Linked DNA regions of Homo sapiens. The protein of the gene in region 3 interacts with the protein of the main gene of each other region in a pairwise test. Each region holds a gene or a part of one and is shown on either strand. Other genes may lie near its edges. The genes, in order: MFSD6, FAM177A1 and SGPL1.

Region 1 (3,754 bases), on a different chromosome or scaffold from region 3:
TTTTTAGTAGAGACGGGGTTTCATCATGTTGGCCAGGATGGTCTCCATCTCCTGACCTCATGATTCCCCTGCCTAGGCCTCCCAAAGTGCTGGGATTACAGGCATGAGCCACTGCGCCCAGCCGACAGTGGCTATCTTCAGGAAGTGAGACAAGATGGAGAAAAGAGGATGTTTTTGCTTTTTACCTTATAAAGTTATGTTTGGGCTTAAAATTTTGTTTTTGGAACAAGCATGTGTTCTCTTATTATATAAACTAAAAAGGAAAACAAAAGAAGACTAGAATTAATTGATTTTATAACAATCCAAAGTAAGATAAAATTGAATGTGCCTAAACTCTAATGTTAGGGAAGTGAAATGAGACTCAGGAGATCAAAGTGAAAGGTGGCATACTGAGAATTGGGGGGCAAAGGGTAAAGAGTCTCAGGTGACTGGCTTTTACTTTTTCTAATAGTAACTGTAGCATATTCTACAACTCCTCAGTTTTCCTCCTCAATAAGAATGCTTTGGAGCATACACAATTTATCTGCTTGATTAGGGGTGATAAGAATTTCTTTCTTCCTGGTCTTGCTAGTGGTGGCTGTCTTTGGAAGCATGATTGTTCTGTACAGAACAATCTGGTAGAAGGTAGGAGTTGGAGAAACCAATTTACCTGCTGTGTCATCTCATGAAATTATGGCATTCTGGATGACTTTAGGTATAATTATTTTTAGTAACAATTTAGGAGAAGCAAGTTATCATAAAGTTAAACTAATCTGATGCATATGTACTTGTTAAATACAGTCCCATAGTTCTATCCAATTCTATGTAAAATTAACTAAAACCACTGCTTAGAATCCTTAAAAATTAATACATTTCCAGACTTAGAAATCCAGAGCCATAATACATTCAGACTTTTCAGAATCAAGAAAACACATGCTTAAACTTGGTTAATTATCATTGTGGTAGTAGGTAATCTTGAGAAAGAGGGAATTGTAAAAGTATTTTACAGAAGAGATATTCTCACAATTTTAGGTATTATCCAACATTTCATTTTGGGTTCTAATTATGTTTTAGGCAGAAGGAAATCTCCATCTTTTAATTTAGGAAACTTTGTTCAATAGGTTATCTTTAAAGGCAGAAATCAAGTGCAAAGTCCTACCCTACTACAAGGCCAGTTTGGGTAAAATTTCTTCCTCAAACTCAACTAACATGGCATTTCCTTGGGCATAGCATTTTTGATTCCTGGGAAAAGCAAACAAACACATCTGATGTCAATTCTGTGTGGGGCAATGAAAACACCTTAATGCCTCCACCAAGAACATTTCCTTTGAGTTTATAATTCCTCCATGTTTAATTATCCAACATTAGCTGTCTGTTCCCATTTACTCTACTGGCATTTTGGGGGTGAGAGGGGCTTGTGTCAGCCTGATTTGTTTTCCTAAATTCTGAATGATACGTTATCCAGTACTTAGCCCCACTGCTGGATTCAGTAACATTTGCTTTGTAGCTGTTTTTGATTGCCCACATTTGGATGATATTTATTTACTGTTTTTGCAAAATGGCATTGTCTCAAGTTGGCTGGGCAACTTTTGGAATCTACCAGTCATTTGTTCAGACAAGTGATGTTTGGTGCAGGGGCCAAAACAGAAAAGCCAACCAAATAATAAATAATTACAAACGTGGAACACCTAAACCTTGAGCCTATATGTTAATATGTGTCTGCTATAGTTACTGGTTGCTATGTTATGGCTTTAAAAAGAGCACACCCTCCCAAACCCCCACCTCTACCTCAGCACCAACAAAAACTACATCCCAATGTTGTATGTATTCAAAGTAGCCTCTCCCTGCCTTGATCCATTATGATGTAAATCTAGCTGAGCCACGTGTTGATGATTATGTTGAAGAGATGTGAGTGAGAGTTCTGTATTACCTTGTGACCTGGTGGTCCTGCTGCATTTTAGGATGGGAGGGGCGGGGTAGAATGGGGGAGAATAGGGCAAAGATGGGAAGAAATTCAGACCCTTAAAAAACCATGTTCAAGAGATGTGGAAAAAAATTGAATTAAGGGGGGCAGAGATGTCTTTCTTTGACATTTGTTGTGGGGCATGTTTTAGAATGGGAGACCAATTCAGGAAACATTTGGCAAGTACAAAACAGGAAAGGCCAGCTCTGAATGACTCTGAGGAAATGTTTGGAAGCATTTTGATCTGAGACCAAGAGTGGGATGGGGGAAAGACAGGGAAAGACAGGGACACTATGAATCAGCAGTGGGCAGAGTGAGCTCTGGTGTGTGGCTTTGAGGAGGATAAAAAGGAGGAACTGGTGCTGCCTGAACAAGCCCGATGTGTGGGTTAACCGTGCCAAAGGAAAGTGAGTGGCGAGCCTGGACTGGTAGTTAGCAGTCTGTGTTGGTTATGTAGAGAGACCTTGTTCCACAGGCAGGTGCACTCCACTCTGCACGGGGCCTGCTCTCTCTGAGCTCCAATAAACCAATGTACCATGAGCCCTGCTATACTGTGGGGTGAAGAGGAGACATGGCAGTCAGGGCCCAGGATTCCAGGAGAAACTGAGCACTGGAGCAGTGGCAGGAGTGGGTCCCTGTGAGTCACGCTGGGAATTCTTAACTGTTCAGGGCACTTTTAGGGACAAAGTTAAGGTAGAACATACTTGGCCTCAAGGTACTTGGCTCAAGGTAGAGCAAAGGAGGAAGGCACCACACCAAACACATAAAGCAGAATCATACAAAGTGACATGCATGCTGCCTATGACTTTTAAGAAGTACTGTGTTCCTGGGGCCTGTCTGGGGGGTTGGGTGGCAGGGGGAGGGAGAGCATCAGGATAAATAACTAATGCATGTGGGGCTTAATACCTAGATGATGGGTTGGTAGGTGCTGCAAACCACCATGGCACACGTTTGCCTATGTAACAAACCCACATGTCCTGCACATGTGTCCTGGAACATAAAATAAAGAAGCGCTGTGTTCTTGATTAACGTGCTCCAATCCAGCAAAGGCAAGCTTCTTTAGCTATTATGGAGTGCCTTTCTTAATTCTATTTCAAAATCATGCCTGTGCAATTGTGTTTAACTAATGAACAAATATGCCCCAATTCACATTTATAAGGGAGTTTAAATAAAAGACTTTATTATGATTCTTTTGAATGAGTAAACATGACACATTTCAATTTTATTTTCTGTGTAATGAGGCTCCCTGTAAAAGGTGTGCATATCTTTTAAGAGTGTCTCAAAGTCCTTGTGACAGTCCCTTTCAATTCCGTATACTGGGAAGCACAAGGCATTAGATGAATGATCAGACCTCAATTTAATAACTCTATAATTTTTCAGGAACTCCGGGAACAAGGACATCCTAATTGTCACTCAAATGTTTTATATTTAAAATAATTCCTTTTTAAATATGTATTTTTAAAGTGATAAATAATGATTTTTTAAAAATCCAGCCAAGTATAAGAAAAAAATTAAATAAGTCCTAATTTTACTACTCAGAGATAATCCCTGATAACACTTTGGTGTCATTTTTATCGAGTCTTTTTCTAAAATACATTTTATTTGAGCTACATAGATTTACAAATATAAACTGTACTATATCGAGAGGTTTGTGTCCTGCTCTTTCATTTAACATGATGCATTTTACCATGTAGTTAAGTTCTATTTTCCCATGATATGGATATAAGATTTTATTTTTCTCTATAGCTTATTTACCTATTTTCACCATAACTTATTTAACTGTCCTTATTATTGATCACTTACTTTGTTTCA
Region 2 (3,754 bases), on a different chromosome or scaffold from region 3:
AACTCACTTCAATTTTACCTTAGATGTACCTTAAGGTACATGTTGGCCAGGATGATCTCGATCTCCTGACCTCGTGATCCACCCGCCTCAGCCTCCGAAAGTGCTGGGATTACAGGCATGAGCCACCGTGTCCGGCCTATAACAATATTTTTTTTTTCTTTGCGTCGGAGTCTCGCTCTGTCGTCCAGGCTGGAGTGCAGTGGCATGATCTCGCCTCGCTGCAACCTCAGCCTCCCGGATTCAAGCAATTCTCCTGCCTCAGCTTCCCAAGTAGCTGGGACTACAGGTGCATGCTACCACACCTGGCTAATTTTTGTATTTTTGGTAGAGACAGGGTTTCACCATGTTGGTCAGGCTGGTCTCGAACTCCTGACCTTGTTATCTGCCCACCTTGGCCTCCCAAAGTGCTGGGATTACAGGCGTGAGCCACCACACCCGGCGGAGCTACAAGTTAATGGACAATCACATACATTGCTACTGCATATTTATAGGCAAATTTTCTAGTGTGAAGTTTTGCAATGTGAATGAAGAGCTTCCTAAATGATTATATTTTTGGCCTAGTTAATTCCACCTTTAGGAATTTAAGCAGATTAAGTAAATAGGCTTAATATTATAATTATATTAATATGATATAATACATGTGGAAAAATAGGATAGAGAAAATATGTAAGGGACAACAATGTTGTAAAAATAAGTGTATGCTCAGGAAAAGACTGGAAAGGTACCCTGATATTTGGATAATTATTTCTAGGTGGTGGAAAATGGGTGAATTACATTTTTCTTATATTGACCTCCATTTTCTTTCTTTCTTTCTTTCTTTTTTTTTTTGAGACGGAGTCTTGCTCTGTTGCCCATGCTGGAGTGCAGTGGTGCGATCTCAGCTCACTGCAAGCTCCGCCTCCCAGGTTCACGCCATTCTTCTGCCTCAGCCTCCTGAGTAGCTGGGACTACAGGCACCTGCCACCACGCCCGGCTGATTTTTTGTATTTTTTTTTAGAGACAGGGTTTCACCGTGTTAGCCAGGATGGTCTCGATCTCTTGACCTCGTGATCCACCCTCCTCGGCCTCCCAAAGTGCTGGGATTACAGGCGTGAGCCACTGCACCCGGCCGACCTCCATTTTCTAAGTGTTCTACAACAAATAAATATGACTTTTATAATCTGAAAATAAATTGTTTTAATAAGAAAAGGTAGTAGGTCTTAATAGGGAAGGAAGAGATACTTATATTTTTGGAGGAAAAATGAATCATTTTGAGTTTTAGCACTATATACAAGAAGTCTTGAAGACACAAGATCTTGTCCCAGTTTTGCTATTACTGGGATAGTCTAGGTGGTGGAATTCTGGCATAGACTCTAGCTACTTCTTTTTTTTGATTCAATCAAGTCAATGTTCAAACAAAGGGCCCTATATATTCATTCTGTATAGTTGTGTGGGATGATGATAAATGTTATTCAGGAATTATTAACCTGTTTTTCAGCTCTGGAGCAGATTTGATTCTTTGGTAGTCATAGCTTGGATATTATCAATTATTCTCGCCAGAAACAACCCCAGGAGAATTGGTCCACTGAGAAACATATTTACAGTTGAACCTTGAACAATGTGAAGTTTAGGGGTGTGACCCCCCAACTACCCTGCACAGTTGAAAATCTGCCTATAACTTTTTATTCCCCCCAAACTAAATTGCTAATAGCCTAGTGTTGACTGGAAGCCTTACCTAGAGCATAAAGTCAATTAACACATATTTCTTATGTTATATGTATTATATGCTCTATTCTTACAATAAAGTAAGCTATAGAAAAGAAAATGTTGGCTAGGCGTGGTGGCTCATGCCTGTAATCCCAGCACTTTGGGAGGCTGAGGTGGGCAGATCACAAGGTCAGGAGTTTGAGACCAGCCTGGCCAATATAGTGAAACCCCATCTCTACTAAAAATACAAAAATTAGCCGGATGTGGTGTTGGGCACCTGTAGTCCCAGCTACTCGGGAGTCTGAGGCAGGAGAATCACTTGAACCTGGGAGGCGGAGGTTGCAGTGAGCCGAGATCGCAACATTGCACTCCAGCCTGGGTGACAAAGAAAAGATAAAAGAAAGGAAAGGGGAAAGGAAAGGAAAAAGGGTTAAGAAAATTATAAGGAAGAGAAAATATATTTACTATTCATTAAGTGGGAAGTGGATCATCATCATAAGTCTTCTTCCTCATTGTCTTCACATTGAGTAGGCTGAGGAGGAAGAGGAGGGGTTGGTCTTGCTGTGTTAGGCATGGCAGGAGGTGGAAGGGGAGGCAAGAGAGAAAGGCGTACTTGCTGTGACTTCATGGAAATACGTAGTAATTTCTGTCTGACTGTTTTACTTTTTTATTTCTCTAAAAATTGTTTTAGGTGGTAACAGTTCTTTTCCCACCATTTGCTTTAGTTTCATTGCCTGTATAGAAGGGTCCATGTTGTAAAAGAAGTCAAGTAGTCTTGAAAAATCGGAGCCCTTCTGCCAGATTGTCTAATGTCAGTTTCTTTTCTGGCACTGCTGCTTTTACATCTTCTTCATTATCTGGCAGTGGTTTGGAGGCACTCATCTCTATCAAGCCATTTTCTGTTAATATCTCTGGTGTTGTGTCTGTTAGCTCTTGAATTTCTCCGAGATCCAAATTTTGAAACGCTCCACCCTCCACCCCCCCTTTCCTTTCATATCTACCATATCTTTCATGATTTCATTGATTGGCTCTGTCGTAAATCCTGTGAAGATGTGCACAACACTTGGGCACAGTTTTCTCCAGCAGAAATTTGTTTCGTGTTGATGTCTTTCACAGCTTTTTCTATAACAATGGCATCTTCAGTGGTGTAATCCTTCCAGACTTTCATGATGTTTTCTTTATCAGGGTTCTCTTCTTCTTCTTCTTCTTCTTTTTTTTGAGACGGAGTCTCGCTGTCACCCAGGCTGGAGTGCAGTGGCGTGATCTTGGCTCACTGCAACCTCCATCTCCTGGGTTCAAGCAATTCTCCTGCCTCAGCCTCCCAAGTAGCTGGACTACAGGTGCACGCTGCCATGCCCAGCTAATATTTTGTATTTTAGTAAAGACAGGGTTTCACCATGTTGCCCAGGCTGGTCGCAAAATCCTGAGCTCAGGTAATCTGCCCGCCTCAGCCTCCTGAAGTACTGGGATTATAGGCGTAAGCCACCACACTGCCCAGGGTTCTCTTCTATGGCATCAACAATGCTTTCCATAGAGTACTGTGTGTAATGAGCCTTAAAGGTCCTTATGACCCCTGATCCAGAGGCTGAACTAGAGATGTTGTGTTTGGGGGCAAGTACAACACTTTGACACCTTCAGTGTTGAACTTGTGGGGTTCTGGGTGGCCAGGAGCATTGTCCAATAACAAAAGAATTTTAAAAGGCAGTCCCTTATTAACAGAATACTTCCTGACTTCAGGGACAAAGCATTGATGGAACCAATCCAGGAAAAGGGTTCTTGTTGTCTAGGCCTTGACAAGTACAGACAAAAGACTGGTAGCTGGTGTTTATCTTTTTCCTTTAAGGCTTGGGGGCTAGCAGCTTTATAGATAAGGGCAGTCCTAATCATAAACCGGACTGCATTTGTACAAAATAGTAGAGTTAGCCTATCCCTTTCTGCCTTGAATCCTGGTGCTTGCCTCTCTTCCTTACTAATAAATGTCTTTTGTGGCATGTTTTTTCAGAATAGGGCACTTTGATCTCCACTAAAAACCTGTTCTGATAGATATCCTTTCTTCTCAATGATTTTC
Region 3 (3,754 bases):
CATCCCCTTCATTCGCCTCTACCCCGTGCAGTAATTTATCACCCAGAAATAACCGCTGTGAGCATCTTGGATGGTTAATGCAGAGTGACTTGTAGCAATTGACAGTTTCTGTTTATCCTCTTACAGAAGGATATGTTTATGTAAATTATAGGTTCTTATATGTAAGATATTTCCCCATGCACAGAGATATGGTTATTACTTATAGGGCCTATGCATTTACTTTAACAGAACAATGACTGCTTTTACTCGGAATATTAACTTTGGAATCAGTTTTCTTTTGAGGTATTTCTCTAGCTGTTGCCACCACCTTTCACCTCCTCACCTGTTAATTTAGAATGTTTAGGAGTGTTGCTTTGCTTGTTGCTGTAAGGAATTAATCCACATAGATGCGAGTGGCCCTAGGCAGTCATCACTTTCTGAAGACAACATACATGTTGCATGAAGTGCTTTCACTGGAAAAGTTGTCATTCATTCCTTGACTGTAATGTATAATGCTATTTGGAACTAACTGGTAAAGAACCAATAACCATGGCTGGGTTTTCAGTGGCACACTAACCCATCATTCTATGAGGTGTTTCTCAAGCTACTTTATATGATATGTAAAACATGTTCTTGGCCCTCCACCTGGGAAGAAAGGACCTAAGTGAATAAAAAAATAACCTCAGTGCAGTGCAGCATCTCAGAATTAGAAATAGTCTTAGAAGTCATGGGATGCAGCTTTTTTTTTTTTTTTTTTTTTGAGACAAGGTCTCACTCTGATGCCCAGGCTGGAGTGCAGTGGCATGATCTCAGCTTACTGCATCCTCAATCTCTGAGGCTCAGATGATCCTTCCACCTCAGCCTCCTGAGTAGCTGGGACGACAGGCACATGCCACCATGCCCGGCTGATTTTTGTATTTATTTTTTGTAGAGATGGTAGTTTGCCATGTTACCCAGGCTGGTATCTAACTCCTGGGCTCAAGGGATCCAACCGCCTGCCTTGGCCTCCCAAAGTGCTGGATTACAGGCATGAGCCACTGTACCTGGCCTGTGATGCAGCTTATATTATACATGAATCTGTTGAAGAGTATCTCTGGTAAATGGATATCCAGTCTCCCGTCTTTTCTGCTAATGGAATAAGTGAGCAAAAGCTAGGAAACAATACAAGGTGGATTCAGGAATAGTAATGTTAACTCTGATAGCTAACATTTATTGAGCATGTATTACATGTTAAGTGTAGGAATACTGTACTTATTTAATTTTCACAAAAACCTTTTGGTATCCTTCTTTTACAGATGAAAAACGAGGCTTATAGAGAGTAACTACAGCAGTTGAGTGGTGGAGCCAAGTTTGACCTCAGTTGGTCTGACTTCAGATCCCTCCCTCTTGCCTACTTTGTGTCCTTACCCCTGGTAAGGGTAGAGGTTGCTGACCATTGTGACTGATGGGAGAGGGTCTGTGTGGAGCAGATGGGATAGGATAGCTCCACCCTCTAGGGGGCACTTTGGCAATGGGGGACTGGGGGAGGAGGGAGTCTTTTTTCTTCTAGTGTAGTCTGAAAATACATGTTTTATTATTAAATTATTATTAAATCTTGTTTATTGGGTCAGGCGTGGTGGCTCATGCCTGTAATTCCAGCACTTTGGGAGGCTCAGGCGGGCAGAGTACTTGAGGCCAGGTGTTCTAGACCAGCCTGGTCAACATGGCGAAACTCTGTCTCTACTAAAAATACAAAAATTAGCTGGGCATGGTGGCGTACACTTGTATTCCCGGCTATTTAGGAGGCTGAGGCAAGAGAGTTGCTTGAACCCGGGAGGTGGAGGTTGCAGTGAGCTGAAGCTGCACCATTACACTCCAGCCTGGGCGACAGAGCGAGACTGTCTCAAAAAAAAAAAAATTTGTGTTTTATTTTCTTTTACGTCGCATTTAATGAATTATATTGAAATTTTAAAACTTGTATCTGCAGGCATAGTGTTATAATCTTTAAATGCCATGTCAGAGTAGCAAAAGGGATTACAGAATATTTGTTATAAAAAGAGGGCATTGGGTCATAGAGTTGAAGACTACTTGTGTGGACAGTATGCTGTGAGAGAAAACCTGGAGATGACCTGGAGTCCACATATAACAAGCCTTGAATCCAGACTGACAGGCTCGGGCTATCAGCCCTCAGTGTGTTCCTGCCCTCAATTTTGTTATCATTTGATTAGGATAGTTTGCTTGCCTTTTTCCATTTGCTCGTATGTGATGTGTCATAGACTGCAGTACTTTCCACCTGTGTCTCATAGAGAATAAAATGAGTATGTTCATCTGCTGAGAGTTGTGATGATGTCAGAGGGAATTCAAGTCAGACAGCTTTGTAGCAGCCTTTCTCCCCCTTGGCAACCATTCTTTTTATTCATACTCTCCTCCTTGGTGCTAGAGGGTGGTATCACTTTGCAAGTTGCCAAATATTTGTAGTTTTTAAGAAAAAGGTATTTTATAAAGCCAGTCTACCCCTTAGGTGGCTTTTTTCTTTTCTCATCAGAAAATGATGACTAAATTAGCTGATATTCATAGATGAATCAAGGTTAGCGTGTGCACCCTGGTAGTGCTAGGTGGGGTTTGAGTGATAATTGCTTATCTAGGGCAGTGGTTCTTGACCAGGGGCAATTTTGCCCTCTGGGTGACATTTGACAATGCCTAGAGACATTTTGGGTTGTTACACCTGAAGGGTTCTGCTGGCATCTAGTGGGTAGAGGCTAGGGATGCAACCAAACACCTTACAACGCACAGTTTCCTGCAAACAAGAATTATCTGGCCTAGAATGTCAATAGTGGTGAGGTTGAGAAACTGGTATGAAGTTTCTTACCATAGATACCTGGATATCTGTGTAGTCTATGCTTTCATATGGGTGGGGGAGTGATTCCCTTCTTGGAGGTTAACGTGTCTGTTATTGTCTCACTTGGGGTTATTTTGCCCATGGGTCAAGCCTTGCTGCTCAGGAATATATATTGGAGATGGTGCAGCTGATCTTTTATAGCAATGCAGAATTCTTAAGAAATGCTGTCCTTTGCAACATTTCTGCACCACTCTTTTCTTGATTTGCAAACAGCAAGCTTCCCTCAGTTTTGTTTTTTGGGTTCAAAAATTGAATCTTTCCAGGTCCTTGAGCGTCTTTATCTGTGACCCTTGACTCTTTTTCAGGGATGCTTTCTTTCTGAATCTCAAGTGGGATTTAAGCAATAAACTGAAAGATTGACCTTAGGAGCTCTGTTCTATTATTTGAGCCTTGTGTCTTGTTTGTAGGATTTGCTAGAAGAAAGGGAAAATTCATTGGGATTGTTGATAGGACATTAAAAAATTTGTTGACATTTGAGTGGCCATTGCAGGATGAACACTGTATTTGGCAATCTCCCAGTGTTATAGATGAAACAGAGCTGTAATAATTTCCACAGCCTTTGGTTTAAAGGAAAAGAGGGTTATAAACAGATAGAATCCAAATCCCAGTATTTGACTTAGCTTTTCAGTCTATGTGTCAGGAATTTTTAGTAATATTTACCTTCTTAATTAGGTTTTACCCAATCTAATATTATATACAGTTTGTGCACATTGGTGGCAGAATTGAGAATCAGCCTGGGTTTAAGAATTTCCATAGGGAATTGATGTGAATCAGTCTGTATGTGTAAATGTACAGAACCCAATTACTGAGATAAAAACCATGCTGTGGGGGAAGGGGAGATAGGGGCCCTCTGAGAAGATGGAATGGTGAAGGCTGCGAGTAGTTTGTGGATATATC

The links.
Region 1: the proteins of SGPL1 (region 3) and MFSD6 interact in binary tests that used the Homo sapiens proteins (3 or more experiments, as listed by UniProt).
Region 2: the proteins of SGPL1 (region 3) and FAM177A1 interact in binary tests that used the Homo sapiens proteins (3 or more experiments, as listed by UniProt).

The regions. Positions count from the first base shown.
Region 1 is NC_000002.12:190,411,335-190,415,088, forward strand, and holds part of MFSD6 (major facilitator superfamily domain-containing protein 6), read left to right. Parts: intron 1-3,754.
Region 2 is NC_000014.9:35,070,187-35,073,940, forward strand, and holds part of FAM177A1 (protein FAM177A1 isoform 1 precursor), read left to right. Parts: intron 1-3,754.
Region 3 is NC_000010.11:70,818,910-70,822,663, forward strand, and holds part of SGPL1 (sphingosine-1-phosphate lyase 1), read left to right. Parts: intron 1-3,754. UniProt on the Homo sapiens protein: Cleaves phosphorylated sphingoid bases (PSBs), such as sphingosine-1-phosphate, into fatty aldehydes and phosphoethanolamine. Elevates stress-induced ceramide production and apoptosis.